Linked DNA regions of Homo sapiens: regions 2 and 3 are each linked to region 1. Evidence: fine-mapped expression QTL. A gene starts in region 1. Each other region holds a variant in brackets. All regions are shown on one strand. Distances are between the middles of the regions.

Region 1 (8,571 bases):
GGCGTGGCTTAGATGGTGGGGGCGTGGCTCAGAGAGTGGGGGCGTGGCTCAGATGGTGGGGGCGTGGCTCCGATGTAGGTGTGGGGGCGTGGCTCAGATGGTGGGGGCATGGCTCAGAGAGTGGGGGCGTGGCTCAGATGGTGGGGGCAAGGTTCAGACGGTCTGGGCGTGACTCAGGCTGAGCATCCTGAGGATGGCTCAGCAACCAGGGGGCGTGGCTGGGGCAGAAGGGAGTGGCCAGGGCTGGGAGCTGTCCCTGCCTTACCTCGGGCGGGTCCACACGGGCGGCCAAGAGTGCTTGGGCCGTGCTATTGGGCAGCGACAAGTTTTGCGTCAGGAAACGCCAGAGCTCCTGCGGGTTTCTGGCCACCGAGTCCAGAGAGAAGGAAGACACTGGACAGGCAGGAAGGCGAGGCTGAGAGGCCGCTGCACCTTGGCAAGGTGCCCCCACATGCGCTCGGAGCCGAGCCCAACACCACAGCTCTGCCACTGCAGCCTGTGCGTGGCTGGGAACTCAGTGCAGGTGGAGGGGCCCAGAGTGGATGTGGGCTTCAGCCCAGTGACAGCAGAGCTTTGCCCGCAGCCCTGCCCCCCAACTTCCCTGCACAGGGCACACCTGTGGATCTGTCCAGGTGGCTCCCCGAGGTGCCCGGGCCCGCACTGAGGGCCTCCAGATGCTGGCGTAGGGCCTCGAGCTCTGAGCCCAGGCTGGGCCGCGCTGGGTCAAACAGGTTGCCTTCCTCCACCACGCGGTCCAGGCGCTCAAGCAGCTGCGTGACCCTGCACCATGGCGGATGTCACTCACTGGATGGGCTGGGGAGGGGTGGGTGCTCCGAGGGGCGGGTGGGCACTCACGTGGAGTTGGCGTACTGCAGGAAGCCGAACTCGTCTCGCTGGCCGTCCGGGCACAGCGATTGCATGACAGGCAGGATGCCGGCAGACGTCAGGGGCGCCGCTGTGTAGAAGGCTGGCAGACCCACGGGAGAGGGCAGGGTCGGGGGTGAAAGGGGAGAGAGAGAGAGAGGAATCCAGAAGGGGAGGGAGACAGAGGCCGAGAGGAGAAATTTAGAGAAAGTCAGGAAGGAGAAGCAGCGTTAGGGAGAAGGCGGCACAGAGCCCTGGCCCCAGCTGGGCTACAGGCCAAGCGTTCTGGGGCGAATGACTCCAGCAGGTCAGAGGTCAAAGAGCCACTCACCACCCCTTCTGCCATAACTCCCAGAGCATTCCTTTCCTTTCAGCCAGTGCAGGCCCACATGCCCTGGCACTCTCCCCCCGAAAACGTTTCAGGTGTGGCACTGCCTACAGAGCCCAGGGGAGGACAAAGGACCCCCTCTGGGCAGTGACCTCTGACCTCTGGCCAGCTGGTTAGCAGAGTGAGTGCAAGAGCCTGAAGGAGTATGAAGGGAGAGTAGCCAGGCCGCTCCAGCCCCAGCCCAGGCCAGCCCAGCCTCAGCCCAGACTCAGCCCAGAAGCCGAGGCACCCCAGCCCTAGAAGGCAAGGCCAGGCAGAGAGATGCCGCCTCAGCTTGACCCAGGCACCAGCTGTGCCTTTAGGTGGCCGGGCCTTTCACTCCCTACCACCTCCCACTTCACTGCCTGCCACCCCCCATCTGGAGCCAGCTGTTCCTGAGGCCGGCAGGGGGCCCGGGAGGGCTGTTAATGCAAGCGGGGAGGGCGCTCAAGCCAGGACGGCCCATGGGCCCCCCGCAGCTGCTGCCCAGGCCAGCCAGGAGGAGGTGGCCGCTCACTTACAGACTGCATGCCAGCCGAGGACAAGAGACCATGCGGGGAGGGAGGGGGATCAAAACAGAACAGAGGAGACCAGTGAGTGCCCACATCACCAGGAAGAGGCGTTGGCATCATCATTCGCGGCCACAGGCCAGCCCCGACCTCCACAGCCCAGCCAGGAGGCACGGCCCAGGACCACACAGGGGAGCAGGCACCGCACCTCAGGGACTCCGGGAGCAGGACACCCGTGTGCAGATGTGCACACACAGCGCAGGCGTGCGAGGTGCCGCGCTCCCCCGGCTGTGCCTGGGGCCTCCTGCCGCACTCACCTTCCTTCACGGAGATGGTGGGCTTCTTCTGTCGCAGCCCCAGCAGGATAAAGAACAGCACCAGGGGGATGAAGATCTCGAAGGCCAGGACCCACTGGAAAGGGTGGGCCCAGTGAGGGATAGGACAGACCTGTGCTCGCCTAGGCCCTCCCCAGCCTCCCATAGGGCTGGCCCAGCCCAGACAGGACCACGTGCTCCCTGGGGCCAGGGAAGGTGGGCACAGGCCCTTCGGAACCACTGAAGGTCTGAGCCCCTTCCAGGGCACTGAGGGTAAGGATTGTCTGGCTCAGCAAATCAGGTTTCCCGTCCCCAGCCCACACTGGGCCTACGTGCCCTCTGAGGAGCCTCAGGGCCTACAGGGACAAATCGGCCAGCTTGTGGTCTACTCTGACCCATGTATATCCCAGCTCATCTTCTCCCTCCCCACCTCCAGGGCTACCTGGGCAAAATCTTGGGGACCATCTGAGCCACTAGCCCCGCCTACACTTCCCACACTGCCCCGGGTTCACCTTCCTCCCACTTCCTCCCCACCAATACCGGGGCCTGGGGAGATGAGGAGGCCTGGTTGAGAGGCTTGGCCTGCGCCCAGGGCCCTGAGCCTCGGAGAAGACCTGGTAAGGGGTCTAACAGCCCCAGTCCCTGAAGCAAAGGCACCTTTTTTTTTTTTTTTTTTTGAGACGGAGTCTCACTCTGTCACCCAGGCTGGAGCACAGTGGTGCGATCTCAGCTCACTGCAAGCTCCGTCCCCCAAGTTCACACCATTCTCTTGCCTCAGCCTCTCGAGTAGCTGGGACTACAGGCGCCCGCCACCATGCCCAGCTAATTTTTTGTATTTTTAGTAGAGACGGGGTTTCACCGTGTTAGCCAGGATGGTGTCGATCTCCTGACCTCGTGATCCGCCCACCTGGGCGTGAGCCACCACACCTGGCCCAAAGGCACCTCTTTCTGCCCTGTCCCCTCTCCTGACCCGGGGCAGCCAGTCTTGGGCCTTGGAGCTCAGTTTCCCCAGGTCGGCTCCTGCTAACCCAGGCTGGGCACCAAGGTGAGCCCTAGTGGGACCTGCGTGGAGTGAGAAAGAGGTGCTTTGCTCACTTCACCTGAAAACCAAGGACTTTACCGGTTCTTGTGTCCCAGCCCCCAGCTCAGGGAGGAGGAGGAGCTTGAGCCAGCTACCCTCCAGAGAGCCCTCGGCAGACCAGCCCTCTCTGAGACCCACAGGACAGAGGGGCCCTGCCCTCCCTAGCCCGAGGGCGAGCACCCAGCTCGGAGGCATCCTTTGTCCTCATCCCCATCCCAAAACCCTTCAGAGCCCCCAGTGTGCTGTGTGGCCCGGGCCGAGTCCCCGGTCCCTGGGGTGGGGGCGGCTGCTGTGTTTACTGTGCTTGGACAATAGGGCTTTGTGGCCAGGAACATCATGCTGTGGGTGTCCCATGCCCGCCCCAGCCCGTGCCAGCCTCCACCCGCTCCCTGAGCCAGGACGGAGCCCAGGGTTCGCCAAGGCACTGTGGGCACCAACAGGCACCAGGGCGAGGGTGGCTGCAGGAGTGAGGCAATGTCAGAGGCAGGGGTCACAGCACGGGGCGCCAGCCCCGCCCACACCCGGCCTGCTATGGGCACTGTAACTGCAGCAACAGGCCCGGCTGCCTCCCCCATTGCTATAGCAACGGCCTCGCACGAGCTACTGGGAGGAGGAGGAGAGTCCTGGCTGGCAGGCGGCGGGCGCCACAGCAGCATCTGGTTACAGGCGGCAGCACAGGTCTAGCACGCCCTGGGTGCCCCACACAGGTGCCTCCAGGTGGCCCAACCTCCGTCCCTCGAGACCAGCCCAGTGCCTTCACATCGCCTGGAGGCCTAGATGCCTTCTCTGGGCATGACCCCTCCCTGTAGCTCCCGCCTACTGTGTCGGGGGGAGAACAGGTGAGACCCGAGGGTGGCGCTGCCATCTGCCATCCCAGTGACTTCATGACAGTGACCCTGTCCCTGCACCAAGAGCAGCCTGTAGCCCAAGGGTAGACCCAAGTCCAGCTAACTAAGAGGAGATAGGCCACACTCACAGACAGGGAAACTGAGGCAAAGAGCTTGGAGGAGCCTGCTAGCAGCACAGAGGTCCTTGGCACCCACCCTCCAGACCCTGAGCTCTGCCCAGGGTGGAGCTCTGCCCAGGGTGCACCCCTGCCCCAGCAGGGCGCATGGCACACAGGGCAAACCTCTGTCATCCAAGCTTGGCCCCAAGAGTCCAGCTCTGATGTCCAAGATCCTTCCCAGGAAAGTGGGGACCCAGCAGGAGTGTGCCCAGTGTCCAGCCAGCCCCAGCCCCACATCACAAGCCTGGCAAGGACTCAGCCTCCCTGGGGGAAACAGTTCCCCACCTGCTCCAGCCATGGGCTAAGGACCTCCACTGTGGCCCAGTGGGCCTCTGGGAGCCCTGTAGGGTGGGGACCCAAAAAGGTCCTGGGGGGCAGCCCAAACCAGCAGCTGGGAGTCACTCTTGCGGTCAGGACAGTGCACACCTCCCACCTGCTTGCCAGCTGCCCTCATAGGCCACACTCCCTTCCCTGAGCATTGTCCCCACTGGAACAGGGGCCACCATTCCAGCCTCTGCTCCCAAGCCCAGTGGGGACCTTCCTGACAACCACCCCCGGGGACTAATACTAATGCATGCCACATGCCACATCCCTGTTCCCTTGGCCCTGCTCTGCTGTCCCCAGTGACTCAATGCCAGGGGCTGCAGGCCTGATCCATGGGACCCCACTCAGCCAGCTCCAGGTGCCTGGCCAGGGCATGTACCTAACCCAGGCTCCCCGCCAAGGCCAGGTGCCCAGGGGAATTCTGCCAGCCATGGTGATGATGGCCACCCCAGCTGACTGCAGCCTGGGTTTCCTGCAGTGCATGTTGAAAGATAAACAGGCACGGACTGGTGCAGCCCAAGGGGTCCCGCCCGGGCCCTGGCTGGGCAAGAGGATGTCTGCCTTAGGCCCCCACCTGCTCTGAGCCCTGGCCTGGACAATCCCAAGGGCCTTCAGAAACCTAAGCTGGTCCAGGCCTGTGGCCTGGGAGGTGTCCCTTCCCTTCCCAGGCTGGAGCCAAGCTGGCCAGCTGGGGGTATGGCAGGACACCCATATCCCCAAGCCCCTCGCTCCACGAAGGACTTCTGTCCCTGACAGCCATGTGTCCTGCACCCTCAGGTCCACTGGCTGCCCAGGCAGTGCTGGGAAAGCCGGGGTTCACAGCTCCAAACAGTAGACCCAGCCCCCAGAGCAGGTGGGGGGACCAGGAGGCAACAGAGTGGATCAGGCTCGGGGAGAACTGACCCCAAAGGACAAATGGGTGCAGAGATTCAGGCTGGCCAAGGCTGGCACAAGGACATTCCCAGTGGCGAGAGCATGAGCAAGGGTCACGGATGTGCCAGGAGGGGAGGCGGAGAGATGCCTGGGACCAACCTCTATGGCAGGCCGCGGCCCAAGGGCAGGGGAGGGGTGGACGGAGGGAAGGGACAGGGTCTCCTCCGGGACCCCAGGGAGGCTGGGCCCAAGGACCATGGAGCCTCGCAGCTGAATGGAGCCCCCCAGGCCTGCCTTCTGTCCTGGGAACCAGGGCCTCCCTCGAGCCAGAGTCCTGAGCGCCGCTTGCCCCCCGCCCACAGCGGCCCCAGCGAGCGCGCTGCAGAGGGCGCGGGTGCCGTGACTCAGCCGAGCACCGCGATGTCAGCGGACGCGGGACCGGACTGGACACGACCGAGCCACCTCCCCGGAGGCCGCAGCGCCGGCAGGCGAGGGCAGGGCCCGGCGGGGAGGGGGCTCGGGCCCGCGCCGCCCCCAGCGCCCGCCGGGGTCTGCGCGCGCCCGGCCGTCCGCACGTGCGCGCGGGGAGCGCGCCTCTGGCCGCGGTGCGCGCGGCCTCGGGCTGAGGGCGGGCGCGTGGGGTGGGCTCACCGGGCTCCGGCGTTTGAGCGTCACGTTCTTCCAGAGCAGCAGCTGCAGCTGGTGCAGGAAGCCCATGGCGGGGCCACGCTCCGCCGCCTCAGCGCCGCGGCCCGCTCCTCTGCGCGCCCCGCCGGGCCCCGCAGCCCGCCGCGCCGCTGGGCATCGCCCGCGCGGGGGCGGGGCGCTCGGGCGTCCGGGACCCGATCCGCGCTGGCTCCGCCCCGGCGGCCGCGGCGACAGCGACTCTGCCCGCGCCCCGCCCGCCCCCGCTTAAAGGCGCCGCGCTCCGTCCGCGCCCGCCAGGAGGCGCCCGCCGCCCGCGCCGCGCCCGGGACCGACCCGGGCCCGAGACCCTGCGCGCGCCGCCGCCGGGAAGCCTCCGGGCCGCCCCTCGCCGGGCGTCACGCGACGCGCCCACATCGAATCCGAGACCCCGGCTTAGCCTTCGTAGGCCGGGGGACCCTCGGGCGCTGCGCTCTTCTCCCAGAGGCATCCGGCTGCGCCCACCGCGCTGGCGACTCTGCAGAGGCGCCCCAAGCCTTCACTGTCCCCGGGGCGCGCCGAGCGGACGCTGGCGAGGGGCCAGCTCACCCCCGTAAGGGTCTCCTGTGTGCTTTGTAAACCAGCACTTGGAGTCCAGGTGGTGCCCACCTGGAAGGGAGGCAGGGCGGCCAGGTGGGTCCGTCCCGCGATTCCGAGCAGCCAGCGGAAGGGGGGAAACTCGAGGCCCCAGGAACGCTCGCCGTGAGCGGAGCAGGCAGGGGACCGAGGCGGCCCCTGCTGCACGCGGCTCGTTTTTCTCCCCATATTCGGGCGAGTCTGGTCTCTGCACAGGGAGTTCGGGATCAGGCGGTTCTGCGGCTGTGGCTTGGCACCTGCTGGGGCGCCCCGGGAGGTGGGGCAGTTCCTCCGCGTGGCCTGTAGAGAGCGACAGAGGACAGGCTGACCCCATGGGTGGCTCTGACGGCGCTTCCCAGACTCAGTTTCCCCCCTGTGAATGGGGTGGAGTAGCGCTGTGTGGTGTCCAGTGTCAGGGCGCACATAGAAGGCGCATCCTCAAGTGAATGAAGACCTCCGAGGCCACAGCTCCCCACTCCTCCCAGCTCCTTTGCAGCAGGAAGGTGACCCTGGGCTAGTGAGTGAGGGATCAGCTTCCCACCCCAGCCCGCAGCCTCAAGGCACTTGCTTTTCTCTGCTCAGTCCACAGGGCTGGGTCAGGGCAGGAAGCTACCAGCAGGTCTTTCCCACAAGCCACAGCCATGGGTGAGGGGGGCTTCCTGCCCTCAACCTGCCCACCCCTACCTGGGGTAGGGACAAGCCCTGTGCCCCAGCCCCGGGGGCTTAGCCTGTTGGGGCCCTGGTCAGCACCACCCGTGGGTTGGCCTCTCTCCTCCTCGCCCCACTCTCCACCGTCCACTACAGGGGCTCCCTGGCTGCAGCCGCATCCCCAGTGCCTCCCCAGCACTGGCCACCAGAGGGAGCTACAAGGCACAGGTCAGACCCTGTCACCCCAGACACCCTCCAGCCTGCGGGCCTGGGAGATGGGCGATTTCAGCCTGGCCAGGCCTCTGACGTCCGTTCCCTACTCTTCCCCAACCTTGGCCTGTTTTGGTTTTTGTTTTGAGACAGGGTCTCATTCTGTTGCCCAGGCTGGAGTGCTGTGGTGTGATCACGGCTCACTGAAGCTTCAACCTCCTGGGCTCAAGCCATCCTCTCACCTCAGTATCCCAAGTAGCTGAGACCACAAGCGTGAGCCACCACGCCCTGCTAATTCTTGTATTTTTGGTAGAGATGAGATTTCACTACACTGCCCAGGCTGGTCTCGAACTCCTGGGCTCATCGCCTTGGCCTTTTGGGGGACACAGAAGGCTCTCTGATAAGGGGCCGTCTGGCGGAGGCTGTAGGAACTGGGGTAGCCAGTGGGCAGCCCGGCACAGGGAGGGCTCTCAGGCGGAGGGTGAGCAAAGGCCCAGAAGTCAGGCGACAGGACCCCCCGTGGGGAACAAGCAGCCCCATGGCCGTGGGGGCGACATGTCAGGGGAGGGCAGATGCAGGCTCTGTGGCCCTGCACGGAGGTGACCCATGAGACACTGGCCAGACCCACGAGGCACTGCTCAGATGTTTATTGTCCACCGCCCTCCCTCCCTGAGCCCAGAACAAGCTGGTTTGCTCCCCGTGGTCTCCTGGGCCCCGCCCCAGCCTACACACAGGGACCTCAGAACTATGGACGTGGCAGGGACCCGTGCCTGTGTCTCGGGGACCACAGGGCCTCTGCTACCGAGGAAGCTCGGGGTCCCAGGTTTGGCCCCCACAAACTTCAGGCTGGGGTGCCCCCCAGCCCCAAGGGCCCTGCCTTTCACCCTCTTCCAGCCAGGCCTTCACCCACCCAAGATTTGTTCAGGGTGGGGAGGGTCCTCGGCAGCCTTTCCCCTCCCGTCTGCCGCAGCAGGCACCCGTTACCTCCCTCCCACTCTCACCTCCTCTGCATGCTCCAGTGCCCACCTGCACCCCCCACCCCTGCTTCCTGACCTCTGTGCCCAGCCTCCCGTTAGCCCGCTGCTTGCCGGTAAGGGCCGGATGCCTGGTGGTTT
Region 2 (9,608 bases), 76 kb after region 1:
AAAAGAGGATTTGACCTCAGCTTGTCAAAAGTGCCACGTTTGTACTCCCAGCATGTAAGCCATCTGTGGTTGTAAGAGGCCTTTTGCTGATCCTGGGACAGATTCACCACAGGGCCCCAAGAGAACGCTCGGGCCCAGCCACAGTTAGGAGGTTGCGCGGCAAACCCTCTACACAACCTCATAGCTGTTCCTGATGGCCATTGGACAGAACTCGATGGGGAGTTTGAGTGGCCATGCGTCTCGTGTGTAGGGACAGCCCCCGTCTGTGTGGCCATCCTGGCATCTTGGGGCCACCTCACTGTCACTAGTGCTCCTGTTTGGATGAAAGATTCTCTACTCCTCCACCATAGAGGCCCCCCGCCTCCGGCCTCTGCAGAGGGATTTCTCACGATTCTCCAAGCTCTGGTCTCTGACCTCAGGCCAGCCTTGACCCTGGAGCAGTGCTGTGGTCTTGGCTCTCAGGCACGGGAGCTCAGGACTGAACTGTGTGTTTCCTGCCACTCAGCAGCCTGCACCTCAGGATGATGGGGCCGCTTTGGGTGCAGGGCTGTGCCTTGGCCGTGGGTATGGAGCGTGGGGGTGGGAAACATGGAGCCACAAATGTTTGACGGCAGCTGACACCCTTCCTTCTCCCCCGAAGCTGGAGGGGAGCGGTGATCGAGCCTGAGCAGGGCACCGAGCTCCCTTCAAGAAGAGCAGAAGTGCCCACCAAGCCTCCCCTGCCACCGGCCAGGACACAGGGCACACCAGGTGAGGCCACACCTGCACCCCTTCCTCCCCGGGCGCTCAGGGGCTGGTGGCTGATGGGTGCAGGCTTCGTCTCAGCCATGGTGGGTGGCGCCCCCGCCCTGGTGTGCACCTTGCCCTTCAGCATCCCCCTGTTGTCTGAGTCCTCACAGGCTCTGCAACCTTGGTGACACCATGTGGCTCTTGGCCTGCTGTCCCTGAGCACATGGCTGCAGAAGAAGGTGTGTCTGAGAGGTTTGTGTCTGGGCCAGGCTGCCCCACGGGATCCCTGGAGACTGCTGCCCGTGCTGTGTCCCCTGTCTCGGCCTGGCCAGTCCCAGGCAGCTCTGGGGGCCACTTCATTCTCAGCACCGTTTGTTGGGGGCCTCCCAGGTGCGGGCCTTCGGCCAAGCTCAGTGCATGACCTGAGGCCTCTTTCAACCTCATGACACCCTCTGACACGATAAGCCACTCACCCTCCCGTTCTCCAGACTGAAAAGCAGGGCTGAGGACAGCCACCCCCAGAGTCGTTTGCTTGTCTGTGGGGGCTCATGGCAGGTCGCTGAGTCTGGAGCCCTGCTCTCATCATGCCCCCCAGGTGTCTCTGAGGTGGGGAGGGAGCCCAGAGCCAGGACTCCCAGCCCCGGGCCTGTGAGGGATGTGTAGCAATCTCTGCGGCATCAATGAGGGCAGAGGCAGAGGCAGAGGCATAGACATGCCATGAGCACAAGGAGGCCTCAGAACCTTTCCTGAGAGGACGTGTGGTTTGGTGCCGTTACACACGTGTCAATCCACACATTAGTCAATGTTGGCCGGGCGTGGTGGCTCACACTTGTAATCCCAGCACTTTGGGAGGCTGAGGTAGAAGGATCTCTTGAGTCCAGGAGTTCAAGACCAGCCTGGACAACACAGTGAGGCCCCATCTCTACAAAAAAAAAAGAAATTTATATATATGTGTATATTTGAGACAGAGTCTTGCTTTGTCACTTCACTGCAACGTCTGCCTTCTGGGTTCAAGCAAGTCTCCTGCCTCAGCCTCCCTAGTAGCTGGGATTATAGGCACCCGCCACCACACCTGGCTAATTTTTGTATTTTTAGTAGAGACGGGGTTTCGCGATGTTGGCGAGGCTGGTCTCAAACTTCTGACCTCAGGTGATCTGCCCACCTCGGCCTCCCAGAGTACTGGGATTACAGGCGGGAGCCACCGTGCCCAGCCAAAAAAATTTAAAAAAAGGGAACGAAGGGACTGTAGCGCGTGTGCACAGTGCGATTCCCGTGGAGCACCTGAAGCCCACGTGGCAGAAGGAGCGTGTTTGAGTCGAGGATGTTCATCGCGAGGTCTGCACCCGTCCGTGTTTCACATTCTGAGTTGGCACCACACTCACCCACGTCTCCACAGGCTGTGCTCACTGTGCTGTCCCAGCGCCCTTGGGGCAGCCACCCTTGTCCCTTTGGCCAGAGGCCACCGAGGCCCAAGGAGGGTGTGCCTGCCCAGGCGCCAGGTGGAGGTGCATGGGCCCCAGTCAGGTGGTCGGGTGACAGGTGCCATCCTGTGCAGTCTCCAGAGGTCTCAGGCCCTTGGCAGGCTGTGTTCTCCCTGGGGGCTGCTGCAGCCTCTGTGGCCCTGGCCTTTGCTGTGCCCACCACCGCCCTTCCCGTCGTCCCAAACCCACCGTCATCTTTGCCCCATGGGGGTCACAGCAGTGCTCTGCCTGAGGGTGTCCATCTGTGCCGACGCCAGGACCACGTCCGCCATGGCCTGTGCTCTCTCCCCCCTACTAGTGCATCTGAACTATCGCCAGAAGGGCGTGATTGACGTCTTCCTGCATGCATGGAAAGGATACCGCAAGTTTGCATGGGGCCATGACGAGCTGAAGCCTGTGTCCAGGTCCTTCAGTGAGTGGTTTGGCCTCGGTCTCACACTGATCGACGCGCTGGACACCATGTGGATCTTGGGTCTGAGGAAAGGTACCTGGTGCTTTCTGGGGAGGGGCTGAGCCCTCCGTGTGGGCCTCGTGTGCTGAGGCAGAGTGTGGGTTGCACACGGGGTGAAAGCTGCTGTTTGCATCTGACCATGGGTTTTCCCTTCTCCTGGGTGCGGGAGTGGACGTGTTGGCTGTGGTCAGTTCCTGTTCTTGTCCAGCCACCCAAGGCACACACAGGGCCGCTGTCCCCAGACCTCTGCAGGAGTTGAGTGTGGACTCTTTGGGGGACGTCCAAGGGACATTCCCAGGCTGTGCTTCTCTTGCAGCTGGGGGTGGTGGGATGAGTGACTGTGGGGCCCCGCTGGTCCCAGATCTCAGCAGCATCCTTCATAGACCAGCACATCCACTTTGAATTGGGAGTATGTGTCTTCGGTTATTTAAGCGATAATTTAAACATTTGCCTAATTTTTTGAATAGGTTGAAGACCACCAGTAAACGACGTGTGTAATTTTTTTGGGTCGTAGCCTTTGGTTGTGACCCATTGGTGGCCATAGCAACTGCACTGCTGACTCCGTTTTATTAACAAATGTTGACGACTTCAAGATTTACCCCCTTGAGATAGGAGGTGATATTGAAGCCCTGCAGGGGAACGATAACGCCCCAGACATGGGTTTGGTTTTTTGTTTTTGTTTTTTTGTTTTTGAGATGGAGTCTTTCACTGTCTCCTGGGCTGGAGTGCAATGGCGCAATCTCGGCTCATTGCAACCTTGGCCTCCTGGTTTCAAACGTGGGTTTTTTGGAGACAGAGTCTAGTGGTGTGGCCCAGGCTGGAGTGCAGTGGCACGATCTCAGTTCACTGCAGCCTTCGCCTCCCGGGTTCAAGCTATTCTCATGCCTCACCCTCCCCAGTAGTTGGGACCACAGGCATGCGCCACCA[T/C]ACTCAGCTAATTTTTGTGTTTTTAGTAGAGATGGGGTTTTCCCATGTTGTCCAGGCTGGTCTCTAACTCCTGGGCTCAAGCAATCCACTTGCCTCAGCCTCCCAAAGTGCTGGGATTACAGGCATGAGCCACCACGCCCAGCCAAATGTATTTTGAAGATGGATAGATAATAGGAAAACGTTGGAGCCATCCATTTGTCTCTGCATCCTTTACTGTTTTATGTCATAGAATTTGAGGAAGCCAGGAAGTGGGTGTCGAAGAAGTTACACTTTGAAAAGGACGTGGACGTCAACCTGTTTGAGAGCACGATCCGCATCCTGGGGGGGCTCCTGAGTGCCTACCACCTGTCTGGGGACAGCCTCTTCCTGAGGAAAGCTGTAAGTGTCTTGGGGTGTCCTGCAGGGAGATGGTGGACTCGCATTCAAGCAGTTACCCCTTTAGTGGACTTGTGGGGACGTGACTGTCTTCCTGTTTCCTCTTCAAATGCACTGGAGTCTGTTTCTGAGCTCATATTCGTGAGCTGATGAAGCCACTTTGATCACCACTGGCCTTGTAGAGACATTCACTCAGTGCAGAGTGATGCCCGTTTCCTTGCTGCTGTGTTGACCCCAGAGAGCCTTCAGTGTCTCCACTGAACTGCATGAAAGGGTGTAGACGAGGCCTCTGGGTGACCTGAACGTTGGTTCTCTACTCTGCTCATATACCAGGAGGATTTTGGAAATCGGCTAATGCCTGCCTTCAGAACACCATCCAAGATTCCTTACTCGGATGTGAACATCGGTACTGGAGTTGCCCACCCGCCACGGTGGACCTCCGACAGCACTGTGGCCGAGGTGACCAGCATTCAGCTGGAGTTCCGGGAGCTCTCCCGTCTCACAGGGGATAAGAAGTTTCAGGTAAGGGGGCAGGCTTTCTGGCTGGATGCGCCTCCCCTGGAGCTACCTTTTGCTCATCACAGCAGGTACTGTGTGTGTGTGTGTATGTGCATGTGTGTTTTCAGGTTTTTTACTGTGATAAAACACACAAAACGCACCACCTTAACCATTTCCAGGCGTGGTCGGTGGTGTTACATTCACGCTGTTGCAGGCGTGCAGGTCGGTGGTGTTACACACATTCACACTGTTGCAGGCGTGCAGGTCGGTGGTGTTACACACATTTGGGCTGTTGCAGGCGTACAGGTCAGTGGTGTTACACACATGCTGTTGCAGGAGTACAGGTCGGTGGTGTTACACACATTCATGCTGTTGCAGGCGTGCAGGTTGGTGCTGTTACACACATGCTGTTGCAGGAGTACAGGTCGGTGGTGTTACATGCTGTTGCAGGCGTGCAGGTCGGTGGTGTTACATTCACGCTGTTGCAGGCGTGCAGGTCGGTGCTGTTACACACATTCCTGCTGTTGCAGGAGTACAGGTCGGTGGTGTTACACGTGCTGTTGCAGGTGTGCAGGTCGGTGGTGGTACACACATTCATGCTGTTGCAGGAGTATAGGTCGGTGGTGTTACACACATTCACTGTTGCAGGCGTGCAGGTCGGTGGTGTTACACATTCACGCTGTTGCAGGCGTGCAGGTCGGTGGTGTTACATTCACGCTGTTGCAGACGTGCAGGTCAGTGCTGTTACACACGCTGTTGCAGGCGTGCAGGTTGGTGGTGTTACATTCACACTGTTGCAGGCGTGCAGGTCGGTGGTGTTACACACATTCATTCTGTTGCAGGCGTGCAGGTCAGTGTTACACACATTCACGCTGTTGCAGGCGTGCAGGTCGGTGGTGTTACACACATTCACGCTGTTGCAGATGTGCAGGTCGGTGCTGTTACATTCACGCTGTTGCAAGCGTGCAGGTCGGTGGTGTTACATTCACGCTGTTGCTGGCGTGCAGGTCGGTGGTGTTACACACATTCACACTGTTGCAGACATGCAGGTCGGTGCTGTTACACACATTCATGCTGTTGCAGGCGTGCAGGTCGGTGGTGTTACATTCACACTTGCAGGCGTGCAGGTCGGTGGTGTTACACACATTCATGCTGTTGCAGGCGTGCAGGTCGGTGGTGTTACACACATTCACACTGTTGCAGGCGTGCAGGTCGGTGGTGTTACATTCATGCTGTTGCAGGCGTGCAGGTCAGTGGTGTTACACACATTCACGCTGTTGCAGGCATGCAGGTCGGTGGTGTTACACACATTCACGCTTTTGCAGGCGTGCAGGTCGGTGGTCTTACATTCATACTGTTGCAGGCGTGCAGGTCGGTGGTGTTACATTCACACTGTTGCAGGCGTGCAGGTTGGTGTTACACACATTCACACTTGCAGGCGTGCAGGTCGGTGGTGTTACACACATGCTGTTGCAGGCGTGCAGGTCGGTGGTGTTACATTCACACTGTTGCAGGCGTGCAGGTCGGTGGTACACACATTCACACTGTTGCAGGCGTGCAGGTCGGTGGTGTTACACACATTCATGGTGTTGCAGGCGTGCAGGTCGGTGTTACACACATGCTGTTGCAGGCGTGCAGGTCGGTGGTACATTCATGCTGTTGCAGGCGTGCAGGTCGGTGGTGTTACACATTTTCACGCTGTTGCAGACGTGCAGGTCAGTGGTGTTACATTCATGCTGTTGCAGGCGTGCAGGTCGGTGGTGTTACATTCACGCTGGTGCAGGCATGCAGGTCGGTGGTGTTACACACAACGCTGTTGCAGGCGTGCAGGTCAGTGGTACACACATTCACGCTATTGCAGGCGTGCAGGCCGGTGGTGTTACATTCACGCTGTTGCAGGCGTGCAGGTTGGTGTTACACACATTCACACTTGCAGGCGTGCGGGTCGGTGGTGTTACACACATTCATGCTGTTGCAGGCGTGCAGGTCGGTGTTACACACATTCACACTTGCAGGCGTGCAGGTCGGTGGTGTTACACACATTCACACTGTTGCAGGCGTGCAGGTCCGTGGTGTTACACACATGCTGTTGCAGGCGTGCAGGTCGGTGGTGTTACATTCACACTGTTGCAGGTGTGCAGGTTGGTGTTACACACATTCACACTGTTGCAGGCTTGCAGGTCGGTGGTGTTACACACATTCACACTTGCAGGCGTGCAGGTCAGTGGTGTTACACACATTCATGCTGTTGCAGGCATGCAGGTCGGTAGTGTTACACATTCATGCTGTTGCAGGCGTGCAGGTCGGTGGTGTTGCACATTCATGCTGTTGCAGGCATGCAGGTCGGTGGTGTTACATTCACGCTGTTGCAGGAGTACAGGTCAGTGGTGTTACACACATTCATGCTGTTGTGCAGCTATCACTTCCATCTCCAGAGCCCTTTTCATCTTAAAACTGAAGCTCTCCCATCACACAGTGACCCTTCATGTCCCTCCCCAGTCCCTGAAAAACACTGTTCAGGTTTTTCTTCCTGGACCTCATTGTGTGGAGTTCCTCGTGTGAGTGCAGTCACACACGATTTGTCCTTTTTTTGTTTTCGTTTGTTGAGACAGAGTCTCATTCTGTCACTCAGGCTGGAGTGCAGTGGCGTGATCTCAGCTCACTGCAACCTCCACTCCCAGGTTCAAGTGATTCTCCTGCCTCAGCCTCCCAAGTAGCTGGGATTACAGGCGCCTGCCACCACGCCCAGCTAATTTTTGTGTTTTTATTAGAGACAGGGTTTCACCAAGTTGGCCAGACTGGTCTCAAACTCCTGACCTCGTGATCCACCCGCCTGGGCCTCCCACAGTGCTGGGATGACAGGCGTGAGCTACCACACCCGGCTGATTTATCCTTTTATTTGGGCTCCTTTCACTCAGCGTCTTTAAGCTTCATACGCGAAAGATGCTTCAGAGATTCCTTTTTCAGGCTGAATATCTGCTGCGTGGCTAGGCCACTTTTTGTTTAATCCTCTCTCCTCTGGTGGACACCAGGACTGTGCTGTTTTGGTTGCTGTAAGCGCGGGTGCACACGCCTGCCTGAGGCTGTGTTTTGGCCGTTGTGAGTGTGGGTGCACACACCTGCCTGAGGCTCTGCTTTGTTGTGAGTGCGGGTGCACACACCTGCCTGAGGCTGTGTTTTGGGTGTTGTGAGTGTGGGTGCACACACCTGCCTGAGGCTGTGTTTTGGGTGTTGTGAGTGTGGGTGCACACACCTGCCTGAGGCTGTGGCGCGATCTCGGCTCACTGCAACCTCCACCTCCCGGGTTCAAGCGATTCTCCTGCCTCAGCCTCCCGAGTAGCTGGGACCACACCCACCACCACACCCCGTTATTTTTTTGTATTTTTAGTAGAGATGGGGTTTTGCCATGTTGGCCAGGATGGTCTGGAACTGACCTCAGGTGATCCACCCACTGGCCTCCCAAAGTGCTGGGATTACAGGTGTGAGCCACTGTGCCCGGCCTCTTTTTACTTTGTTAATGGTGTATTTTGATAGATAACAGATTGTCATTTTCATGAAGCACAGCTGGTCAGTTTATTGTTGCTCATGTATTTGGCCTCATGTTCGAGTCCCTGTTTTTAATCATGAGCTGGACACAGCCCTCTTTAGAGCAACTGTGACCACTTGTGGTGAGAAGTGCAGCCCACACCATCCACGTGAGGCTCCCACACGCCATCCACGTGAGGCTCCCATGCAGACATTTAGAAGGCGTTTTCACTGCAGCTCAGAAAATGGCCCCAGGCCCCCATGGGCACCCCCATGTCACCAGGGCCTCTGGTTGCTGCCGGTACACAGGGATAGGCAGCCAGGCCTCGAAGGTGCTGGGCATGGGTTTGGGTGTCTGCGTTGGGTAGAGACCCGGAGCGCCCTTGCTGGGCGTGCCCTAACATCCCGGTACCCTGTGCCCCTCTGTGGGCCAGGACGCCTGGTGCTGCCAGCTGGGCGTAAGCCCTGAGGAGCTGAGGGTGGCTGTGACTTGGAGGATGAGTAGGAGCTCACCAGGAGGGCGTGGAGCCGAGGCGTTTAATATCATCAGGAGCAACACTGGGCTCAGAAGGCAGGCACACTTGCCGTCCCTCCAGAGCCATGGCTGACGGCCAGGCCTGGTGGGCTCTCGTGAGGACAGTGCCTGTGGTTGTCAGATGCTGTCCCTTCGAGTAAGGGATGAGAGCCATCCTGAAGATGGGTCAGCTCTGTGGTGACCACCCGTTGGGAGCAGTGACATTCAGGTGCGTTGCACTGGTGGCTGTGTGGCTGTGTGGTACGGCCACCAGGAGCCATGTGGGCAAGGACAGCTGTGGGCTGGGCACAGAGCTCTCTCTGCTGGGAGTCAGTCGGTGCTGGGGCGAGGGGAGGCAGAGCTCACAGAGCCCCTCTACAGCTCACCCTGCAGCTCGGCCCTGGCCAGTAAACCCACCATCCCCCTTTCTGCCGCAGGAGGCAGTGGAGAAGGTGACACAGCACATCCACGGCCTGTCTGGGAAGAAGGATGGGCTGGTGCCCATGTTCATCAATACCCACAGTGGCCTCTTCACCCACCTGGGCGTATTCACGCTGGGCGCCAGGGCCGACAGCTACTATGAGTACCTGCTGAAGCAGTGGATCCAGGGCGGGAAGCAGGAGACACAGTGAGGCCCGGCCCGCTGCCCCCAGCTCCCGCGGCTCCCCCGTTCCCGCAGCCCCCCACTCCTGCTGCCCCCAGCTCCCACGGCCCCCGCTCCTGCTGCCCCCCGCCACACTGTGTGTCAGGAAACCGCAGCCGTGCCAGGCCTGGCCCAGGCATTTATGTGGAGGGCGTATTCATTCACCTCTCACCGTGGCCTCTGGGGGGGTGAGGGGGGCATCTTCACTGAGGGCCATGGGCTGTGCAGGGTGGCACCTTCTGTCCGGCAAGGGCCAGGCCTGCTGTACTTGTGTGGGCCCAGGATGTGCCTGTCCCTGGTGCCCCACGGGAGCCGATGCACCGTCCTGGTAGAGTGAGATGACTGCTGGTGTCCACAGGCTGCTGGAAGACTACGTGGAAGCCATCGAGGGTGTCAGAACGCACCTGCTGCGGCACTCCGAGCCCAGTAAGCTCACCTTTGTGGGGGAGCTTGCCCACGGCCGCT
Region 3 (9,608 bases), 41 kb before region 1:
TTGATGGGTGCACAGGTGTGAGGCTCAGAAGGAAAACCTGTCCCAGTGGCTGGAACAGGGCTGACTCCTGAAGGCTCATGGTTGGGGGGTGCAGGTGCGAGGCCCCAGGCAGACAAGGCCAAGGGGCTATACCACAGGGACCACCTGGCAGCAAGGGTGTCTGGCTCCTGGGCTAGGAGGAAACCAGGGTGGGGGAGACAGGATGGGAGGGAACAGGGGATGGAAGGGGAGGGCCAAGGACGCTACATGGATGCCGTGGGACAGCTCGGAGAGCAGGCTCAGGGCGGATTCACCCACCACCCCCAGGAGGGAGGCCTAGGCTGGAGCTGGAGTCTGTGGACCCTGGGGCTGGGAAGGGTGGAGTCTGTAGACCCTGGGGCAGCGGGGATCCAAGCCCCAGGGATGGATCTTGCTCTCTCAGCGGGGCTCAGTGGGGCTGGGGGCAGAGAAAAGTCCCCGTAGCCCGCACCTGCTCCATCGACTGGAGTGGAGGTGGGCTGGGGTAGACTGCAGTCCTCCATCCTAGCCTTTCGGTCACACCCCTCAGGACTCCCCAGGGCTGAAGCTGGGATCCCGGCCAGCCAGGTGACCCCCACGCTCTGGATGTCTCTGCTCTGTTCCTTCCCCGAGCCCCTGCCCCGGCTCCCCGCCAAAGCAACCCTGCCCACTCAGGCTTCATCCTGCACAATAAACTCCGGAAGCAAGTCAGTAGAGCTGGCTCCTGGCTGTCTGCGCTGTCATCACCCGTCCTGGGCCTGGCCCTGGCCACCCGGACCTCCCCCTCTAAAATCTCAGCCTGACGTCAACAAAGGAACAGGCCCTCTAGTGTTTGCTCCCAGTGGGGTCTTGAGTCAGGACAGCTAGGAGGGGGTGTCCCTCACTGTCTCCCACCCACCCCACACAGTCGTGTGCCCCTGCCCCACAGCCCCACACGTCGAGCCATACCCCCTCAGCTGCCACTGCCACCAGGCCGGTGCTGAGCTGGGGGTCAGTGACTCAGCTAATCCCTTAGGCAGGTGCCCTGCACCCCCAACGCCACCCTGTCACCCCCTCAGCAGTAAAGGCCTGAGGCTCGAGGCCCCAGAGGAGCTTTGGACCTGTTGGGTATCTTGAGGTGTGGGATTAACGCACTGAGATTGGGCAGAGATAAGGGTTTCAGGGGACAAAAAGAAACATTTGTTTGAAACATGCCAGAGTGTCTCCACCCCGCATCAGGACAGACTGACAGAGTGGGCTGGGGACAGGCTACCCCATATCCCTTCTGGCTCCCTGTGCGCCCCCTGCCCTCTGACCTGGGCCTCCAGATCACAGCCTTGTCCACTCACCAGAGCCCTGGCACCACGGCCACACCATGCCCGGCCAGTGCCCTGCCCAACCCTGCTCCCTTCCAGATTCCCACCCAGGCAGCCATTCTCAGGTACACAATGTGCAGGACTCACTGTGACCTGCCCACCAGGCCCCCCCGAGGCAGACCCTGCAGAGGCACCAAGCATTTTGAGGCTCGGAGGTGAGGGTGAGCTTCTGGGTGGCCTTCCCGGAGAAGGGGGCTTAGGGCTGTGCCTGAGCTCAAGGTAGGGGGGATTCCAACATCCCAGAGGGGCTGCAGAAGGCCGAAGAGGCAGGATGGGTGAGCTGCAGGCCCCCTAGCCCAGAGGCCCGTCAGAACTACCCTCAGCTGCCAGGCATCCGGCCCCACCCCGGAGGAAAGGCAACGGATGGCTGGGGTTGGGTGGAGGGAGCCAGGCCAGAGCGCTGCAGGGTGCAACTTGATCAGAAGCCTGTCACAGTGGGTGCAGTCCCAGGCCAGCCGCCCCAGGGCACCTCAGGGGCGTAAAGCCTACAGAGGAGCCACCTCAGCTCTGCCCTGCTCCCGTGTCCGGAGGAGATGCCATCTTGCTGCATGATGCTTCGGGCTCTGCTGATCAGTTCCCTCCTTGCCCTGCTCTGGGCATCCCCAGGCCAGGCCCAGGTCCCCATCCAGGCCAACTTTGATGCCAGCCAGGTGTGCCCAGCCCTGTTTCCTCCTCATCTCCAATGAGTCCTCCCGGCTTTGGTGCTGCACCCCGGGTCCCTGTCCACACCCTCTTTGATCCAGGCTCAGCAGGGCTAGGGGCAGGGGAAACCCCCACCTCACCCGCTCCGTCTGACTGGAGTAGGGGTTGGCTGGGGAAGACTGCAGCCTCCATCCTACCTTTTCAGTTGCATCCCCCAACAATCCCCAGGGCCCAAAATAGGGACAAGTTGGTTGCCTGTGCCTCACTGTCCCCCACCCACCCCACAAAGACCTGTGACCTTGCCACAGCCCCACCCATCCAGCCGTACCCCCTGGGTGCCAGCTGCAGACAGGCCGGTGCTGGGCTGGTGGGGGCCAGTTGCTCATGTACTGAGGCCCCCCTCCCTCAGTTCTGCATCGGGGTCGAGATGTGTACAGCAGCCCCTGCCGTGGCCAGGAAGCAGCTGTGTCGGGGCAGAATGTGGTGGGCTCAGGCCCAGGGCACAGGGGCGGCCTCCCAGCCTTCCCTGCACTTGCCCTGCAGTTCCAGGGCACCTGGTACATGGTCGGGGTGGTGTCAGATGACCAGGACTTCCTGGACTCCAAGGACACCATGAAGATGGCTGTGGTCTTAGTGACCCCCTTGGGGAATGGTGACCTGGCCCTCAAGTTTGGATACCCCACGTAAGTGACCACACGAGCCCATCAGACTCAGCCTCAGAGGATGGCCAGCATGAGGCCACATGAAGGTCCAGAGGGACCATGGTGTCCCCAGCACATTGAGGTCAGACCACGGGTCCTCGACGGCTCTGTGCGGCAGAGCCCCAGATGGCAGCCACACGGAGTCCAGAGGGACCCAGGCCCTGGAGGAAGCACTGCCTGAGGCCTGGTGTTGAGAAAAGTGTCTGCATGTCTGTGTCTGTGTGTGTATCACTGTATGTGGCTGTGTCTCTGTGTATGTGTGTCTATTTCTGCATGTGTGTGTGTCTGTGTGTGCGTGTGTATGCATGTGTGTCTTTGTAGATGTGTACCTCTGAGTGTGTATGTGTGTATCACTGTATGCGTCTGTGTGTCTGTGTGTCTGTGTATCTGTGTCTGGCTGTGTGTGTCTATCTCTGTGTGTGTCTTGTGTGCGTGTCTATGTGTGTGTCTGTCAGTGTGTCTGTGTCTGTGTCTATCTCCGTGTGTGTGCATGTGTGTAT[G/A]TGTGTGTCTTCTGTGTGTCTGTGTCTGGAAGGGGGACCTGGAGGCCCTGCATTCTAGGCTGTGTGCCTGTGAACAGGTACTTAATACCCACCCCACCCCCAGCAGGAGTGTCCCCACCTCTAAGGTCATCCTAAAGTCCCATGTCCTCTAAGGATTGTGAGGGTGAACAGGGGACCCTGGGCTCAGAGACAGCAAGGTAGGCTCTAGGCCTGGGCGCTGGGCAGGGGTGGCCACTCAGGGGATTGGGGCTCTTTCTCCCCAGGCCCCATGGCGGGTGCCAGAAAATGGACACGACCTTCACCGAGGGTGCTGTACCGGGGCAGTTCAGCAACCCAGGTGAGGTGGGGCAGCAGGCAGGGCTGTGGCGTGGGGGCCCTGGAGGCTGCATGGACTGCTGGATTGGCACCTGGGGCCGGGGCGTGAGGGGTGCCACGCTCGGGGGGGAGGTGCCCTGGGCCTGGGGTCAGCGGCTCTCGCTCCTCCAGCCATGGCCCTGAGTGACATCCGAGTGGCCTTCTCCGACTACCAGCACTTTGCCTTGCTGTACTTGGAGATGCGGAAAGGGGGCCTGCGGAACCAGTGGCTGCAGCTCTACGGTGGGCGGGCTGCGGGGCGGAGACCCAGACACCCCCGCTTCGGGTCTGGGATGTCACCCCTGTGCCTGCACCAGCCCTTTCTGCACGCGGAAGGTGGAACCGCTGGCTCCTGGTGTCTGTGGCCGCGGGTCCCGGCCCCTCCCTGCCCCTCTCTCCCTCTCTTCGCCCCTCCAGCCCCTTCCCTTTAGCTTACCCGCCCTCCCCACCTTCAGCTCGAGCGCCCGAGCTGTTTCCCGAAGGCGCCCAGAAGATGCAGCTACTGGCGCCCCAAGTGGGCCTGAGCCCCAGCCAGGGCGTCCTGCTGCCGAAGTCGGGTGAGCGGTGCCGGCAGCCCTGCTGGGAGGGCCAGGCCCCGGGTCACACCCCTGCTGGAAGGGCCAGGCCCTGGTCACTCCACTGATCTCAGATTCGGGACAGAAGTGCCCGGGGCAGACCCAGCCTGTCTGGGTCGGGGGAGGGCGAGACGTTGCCCAGGCCGGTGTTCCCAGGAGGAGATCGCCTTGGGGCAGGTCGGGGGCCTCCGTCCCAGGGAAGGGGGCGCGGGGTGGCGCCTCAGGCTCGATCTCTCTGCAGACCAGTGTGCGGGCGCGCTCTCCCGGGTGAGTAGACCATGGCCATGCGGAGCCGCGGACCATGGGCCCTCCCAGCTCGGTGGGCTGCACCGCGGGGCCCTCTACCTTCGGGGCAGCTAGGGACGACAGCGGGGGTGATGGGGCACCCGGGCGGATCCGAGCCGCAGCAGCCTGGGGAACCGCGGGGCTGCGCGTCGGGAGGGGGCGGAGGCAGGGGACGCCGCCCACCTGCTCCTTGTTTTGCAGTGAGGGGTCCAGCCCCTGAGTGCCCGCAGGGGTCAGCTGCTCCGTGCGCCCAGCCCTGCCCAAAGAGCCCCCTCCCTCCACACCCTGGCCCCAAGCGCAATAAACACCCTGAATGCCTGTGGCGCTGTGCGTTTCTTGGGGGCAGGGAGGGGTGGCGGGGGGGCGGCCAGGTACATGGGCGCCCTGGGGGAGGGGCCGGGTCACCCCCTGTTGCCCCTCTGGGTAGGCGTTAGCCCAGGAGGGACCGAGCCTCGGCTCCGTGGCAGGGAGGTTCCTCAGGACGGGCCCCAGCCCCAGCTCTGGGACTTTTCTACCTCCGCACGGACCCAGACCCCCAGACTGGGGGCGCCGGGAGGGCGGGACACGGACACCACGCGGCGCGCGCCCCAGGCTTCAGCGGACACCGCCGCGCGACGTGGCCTTCCGGGTCCTCCCAAGCGGCTGCCCCAGTCAGTGTCGGCGGCTTCCATCCCCAGGCGCCCCTCCGGGTCCCCCAGCTCCCCAGCCCCTGACTCCTGGCTCCAGGACCCGCCCCAGAGGCCTGGCTGTTCCGGAGACCAACGAAGCGCTCCCAACTCTGACCCAGGGCCTGTCCACGGAGAGTGGAGGGCGAGGAGGACAGGAGGAGCCGCATAAAACTCTGCCCTGCCTGGAGTCTATGTAGGACAGTGTTGTCTTTTACAGACAAGTCTCGAAGAATTTGAAGGAAAATAGCCTACTAGCTGTAATGTACCTAGTTCAGCAAAATAATAATAAAAATACTGGTTGCAAATCTGTGAATATTTGGATAGTGTTTAATCTGGGTGATGGGTCTACGGGGTGCAGTATGCTCTGATTTCTCCTTCTCAGTTGGTCAGAGTTTTGTTTGTTTGTTTTTTTGAGATGGAGTCTCGCTCTGTCGCCCAAGCTGGAGTGCAGTGGTGCGATCTCGGCTCACTGCAAGCTCCACCTGCCAGGTTCAAGTGATTCTTCTGCCTCAGCCTCCCAAGTAGCTGGGATTACAGGTGATCGCCACCACGCCCTGCTAATTTTTGTATTTTTAGTAGAGACAGGTTTTGCCATGTTGGCCAGGCTGGTCTCAAACTCCTGACCTCAAGCGATCCACCCACCTTGGCCTCCCAAAGTGCTGGGATTACGGGCGTGAGCCACTGGGCCCAGCCCAGAAAATTTGTTATTAAAAAACACCACTCGGGCCGGGCCCAGCACTTTGGGAAGCTGAGGCGGGCGGATCATGAGGTCAGGATATCGAGACCATCCTGGCTGACACGGTGAAACCCCGTCTCTACTAAAAATACAAAAAATCAGCCGGGTGTGGTGGCGGGCGCCTGTAGTCCCAGCTACTCGGGAGGCTGAGGCAGGAGAATGGCGTGAACCTGGGAGACGGAGCTTGCAGTGAGCCAAGATTGTGCCACTGCACTCCAGCCTGGGCCACAGAGCGAGACTCTGCCTCAGAAAAAAAACAAAACAAAACAAAAAAACACCACTCGGCGGAGCACAGTGGCTCTGCATCCCCCCTGCATTCCCAGGAAGATTCCGAGCCGGGAAATGCAGGTTGCCCTCCACAGCCTCAGGGATGCCCTTTCCTTCCTTCCAGGGTGGGGCAGCCTCTGGGGGTGGCTGTGGGTCCAGCTGTGGTCAGCCCCCAATCCCTTGCAGACGCATCGAGTCCCTCACCTCCCACGCTCAGCCCTTTCTCCACCTAGAAGCCCAGGGGATGGATTCACAAGATGTGTCAGATCAGGCCCCCCTGCTCAGCACCCCACAGTGGGTCCCATTGCACTGAGAGTAAAGGCCTAAGTCTTTTTTTTTGGAACGAAGTTTCGCTCTTGTTGCTCAGGCTGGAGTGCAGTGGCGCGATCTTGGCTCACTGCAACCTCTGCCTCCCGGGTTCAAGCGATTCTCCTGCCTCAGCCTCCTGAGTAGCTGGGATTATAGGTGCCCGCCACCACGCCCAGCTAATTTTTGTATATTTAGTAGAGACGGGGTTTCACCATGTTGACCAGGTTGGTCTTGAACTTCTGACCTCAGGTGATCCACCCACCTCGGCCTCCCAAAGTGCTGGGATTACAGCCGTGAACCGCCATGCCCGGCCTCAGGCCTAAGTCTTGATGGTGGCCAACAAGGTCTTCTCTTTTAGGCTTTCCTTTGACCCACCATCCACTCCCCTCCCTCCGTCCTGCTGCCAGCCCCTCACGTGTCTCAGGGCCTTTGCCCAGGTCACCCCTGCCTGGACTGCCCTTCTCCCAGTGCCACTCAGTGCACTCACTCCCGTCTCTGAAGTCTTGCTCAAATACCTCCCTTGGTTGTTGACCTCTGCTACCCCAAAACTTGACTGGCCCCCACTCCCCTAGAGCTCGTTCTCCGGACCTTTTGCTCCTCTTTTTGGCCCAGCTTCCAGGTGCTCTATGCCTTGGGAAAGGTCAGCCCTTTCCCTCCCCTGTTCTGCCTCCATCACCGACTTCAAGTGTGTGCGTGGGGACTTTGTAATCCCTCTCCTTCTGCTTGCAAAGCTCCACTAACCTTATATCTCATACACTGTATTAATGTATCCTACATTAAAGAAAATTGCTCCCATGGCTGGGTGCAGTGGCTCATGCCTGTAATCTCAGAGCTTTGAGAGGCCGAGGCAGGCGGATCACCTGAGGTAGGAGGTCGGGAGTTCGAGACCAGCCTGACCAACATGGAGAAACCCTGTCTCTACTAAAAAATACAAAAATTAGCCAGGTGTGGTGGTGGGCATCTGTAGTCCCAGCTACTCGGGAGGCTGAGGCAGGAGAATCGCTTGAACCTGGAAGGCAGAGGTTGCGGTGAGCCGAGATCGCACCACTGCACTCCAGCCTGGGCGACAGAGCGAAACTCCGTCTCAAAAAAAAAAAAAAAAAAAAAGTATAAAAAAGTATCTCAGAGAAGGACGTGGTGGAAGCCAGTGGAAAAGCTGCTGCCAGTAGATGAAGCTGGCCCGATGTGAGCCACGAAACAGAACATGACACCAGGGTGTGAGCCAAAGTGTAAAATAAACACCTGAGGTCCACACGGACCCAGCCTGAGGCTAGTTAAATGAAGGTTTTGCAGTTTTCTCGTCATGTTTTGGAACTAATCTTTGTTTCTGGTCTTGTGTCAGTTCCTACAGCTGCCACAAATTATCACAAACTTGTAGCTTGAAGCCAGAGTTCAAAATCAGTTTAATAGGGTCGAGGTATCAGCCGGGCTGTGCTCCCTCCGAGGGCTCTAGGGGAGAAACCTTCCTTGCCTCTTCTAGCTTCTTTGTCTTCTTTTTTTGTTGTTGTTGAGACAGAGTCTTGCTCTGATGTCCAGGCCAGAGTACTATGGCGCGATCAGATCACTGAAGCCTTGAACTCCTGGGCTCAAGCAGTCCTCCTGCCTCAGCCTCCTAAGTAGCTGGGACTACAGGCATGCATCGCTATGCCTGGCTAATGTTTTCTTTTTAGAGATGGGTCTTGCTGTCTTGCTCAGGCTGGCCTTGAACTCCTGGCCTCAAGCAGTCCTCCCACTCTGAACTCCCAAAGCACTGGGATTGCAGGCATGAGCCACTGGGCCTGGCCTCTTCTGGTGGGATACCCTACCTTGTTTCCACCTGAGTGACCCTCTCCTGGCAGAGAGAGAGCCGGACACACTCCATTTTAGTTTCTTCACCTGCGGCCCCCTTTCACCTTCCTCCCTGAAGGCATAGCTAGTGTAAACTGACTCAAAGCACGTCCAGGAATGCACCTACTGATAAGACATTGAGGCAAGCTGCACCAGCAGCTCCTGGGGACACGCGTGGTGGATGGCACCCAAAACCCCTGCATTTATCTCTTTGTGATAGTTTAAGCCTCTGCACCTGGAACTGTTTATTTTTTGTAACTGCATTTGTAACCAATTAATTTTTTTAACTTTTTGCCAGTTCTGCTTCCGTAAAAATTGCTTCAGCTAAAATCCCCCCTCCCCTATTTAGACCACGGTATAAAAACAAAACTAGCCCCTTCCTCGGGGCCGAGAGAATTTTGAGCGTTAGCTGCCTCTCAGTCGCGGCTAATAACGGACTCTTTAATTTGTCTCAAAGTGTGGCGTTTCTGTATAACTCGCTTGGTCACAACACTGGCTTCTGATAGCAGCCTGTAATCCTTGGCTTGTGGGCTGCATCGCTCCAGTTCCTCCCTCCATGCCATGCTGCCTTCTTTTCTGTCTCAAAGCTTCCTCTGCCTCACTTTTAAAAGGCCCTTGAGATGGCACTGAGGGCCTCCCTGGGCAATCCAGGATAATCACCCCATCTCAAGGGAATATCTGCAAACACTCCTTTCTTTTCTTTCCTTTTTTTGGGGGGAAGGGGAGACAGGATCTCACTCTGTTGCCCAGGCTGGAATGCAGTGCCCAGCATCTTCCATAGACAATAGCATTCACAGGTCCCAGGGATTAGGGCCTGATATCTGGGGCCTGCTACAGCCAGCATCTCAGAGTTCACATGACAAAGAAGAGGCCCCCCAGTCCTCTCCAAATCTGCCCCACCCCAGTCATCTTGGGGATGAATCTCCCCTTTCCACTCTTCCCAAATGCCAGGGCCATCCTTGATTGTTCTTTGTCTCCTCCTCCCTCCACCTCCAGTCCGAGCCCATGGTCCACCCCTCTCCTCTGCAGCCCCCGTCCTCTCTCCTCACAGCACAGAATACGGACTTCACACACATAAGTCAGACGTGCCACTTCCCATCCACCCCTGCTTAAACCTCCAACAGCCACCACCCCCCATTCATTCATTCACAATGTTTATTCAGTGTCTGTATGTGCCAGCCATTGTGTAAGCGCTGAAGAGACGGATACACTGGCAGGTAAAACAGACAGAAATCCCTGCCCTCATGGACCTCCTGGGGTGATGGACAATAAGCAGGGTAAATAAGTGTATTGGTGGTCACTTACTGCAGAGTGACAGGTTACCCCAAATGCAGCTGCTTAACCAGCAGGCATGCATTATCTCCCAGTGTCAGCCAGGCAGGACTCTGGGCC

The links. PIP is the estimated chance that this variant, and not a neighbour inherited with it, causes the effect. A credible set is the group of variants that fine-mapping cannot tell apart.
Region 2: its variant is the best candidate, but not a certain one, in a credible set for the expression of ABCA2 in whole blood (TOPMed, PIP 0.59).
Region 3: its variant is the best candidate, but not a certain one, in a credible set for the expression of ABCA2 in whole blood (TOPMed, PIP 0.76).

What each region holds. Positions count from the first base shown.
Region 1 is chr9:137,022,086-137,030,656 of GRCh38, forward strand. It overlaps ABCA2 (ATP binding cassette subfamily A member 2), which reads right to left and starts at 6,152. Exons shown (of 49, transcript NM_001606.5): 1 at 5,990-6,152; 2 at 2,058-2,151; 3 at 1,753-1,755; 4 at 856-967; 5 at 617-780; 6 at 266-393. The coding sequence starts at 6,055. It overlaps FUT7 (fucosyltransferase 7), which reads right to left. Exons shown (of 2, transcript NM_004479.4): 2 at 8,089-8,571. LINC02908 (long intergenic non-protein coding RNA 2908) reads left to right here and starts at 5,379. Exons shown (of 3, transcript NR_171031.1): 1 at 5,379-5,826. RefSeq lists enhancers at 508-1,087, 6,293-7,037 and a silencer at 6,230-6,409.
Region 2 is chr9:137,097,188-137,106,795 of GRCh38, forward strand. It overlaps MAN1B1 (mannosidase alpha class 1B member 1), which reads left to right. Exons shown (of 13, transcript NM_016219.5): 5 at 641-750; 6 at 2,509-2,694; 7 at 3,818-3,966; 8 at 4,297-4,485; 9 at 8,938-9,128; 10 at 9,502-9,608. LOC124902313 reads left to right here and starts at 4,492. Exons shown (of 3, transcript XM_047424371.1): 1 at 4,492-4,725; 2 at 5,833-6,447; 3 at 6,485-7,789. The coding sequence starts at 6,045. The coding sequence ends at 7,023. The variant T/C (reference allele first, on the strand shown) is at 3,589.
Region 3 is chr9:136,981,032-136,990,639 of GRCh38, forward strand. PTGDS (prostaglandin D2 synthase) reads left to right here. Exons shown (of 7, transcript NM_000954.6): 7 at 548-711. LCNL1 (lipocalin like 1) reads left to right here and starts at 1,962. Exons shown (of 3, transcript NM_207510.4): 1 at 1,962-2,677; 2 at 3,459-3,532; 3 at 3,682-4,727. The coding sequence starts at 2,556. The coding sequence ends at 3,980. RefSeq lists enhancers at 3,300-3,857, 3,858-4,413 and a silencer at 9,206-9,500. The variant G/A (reference allele first, on the strand shown) is at 3,196.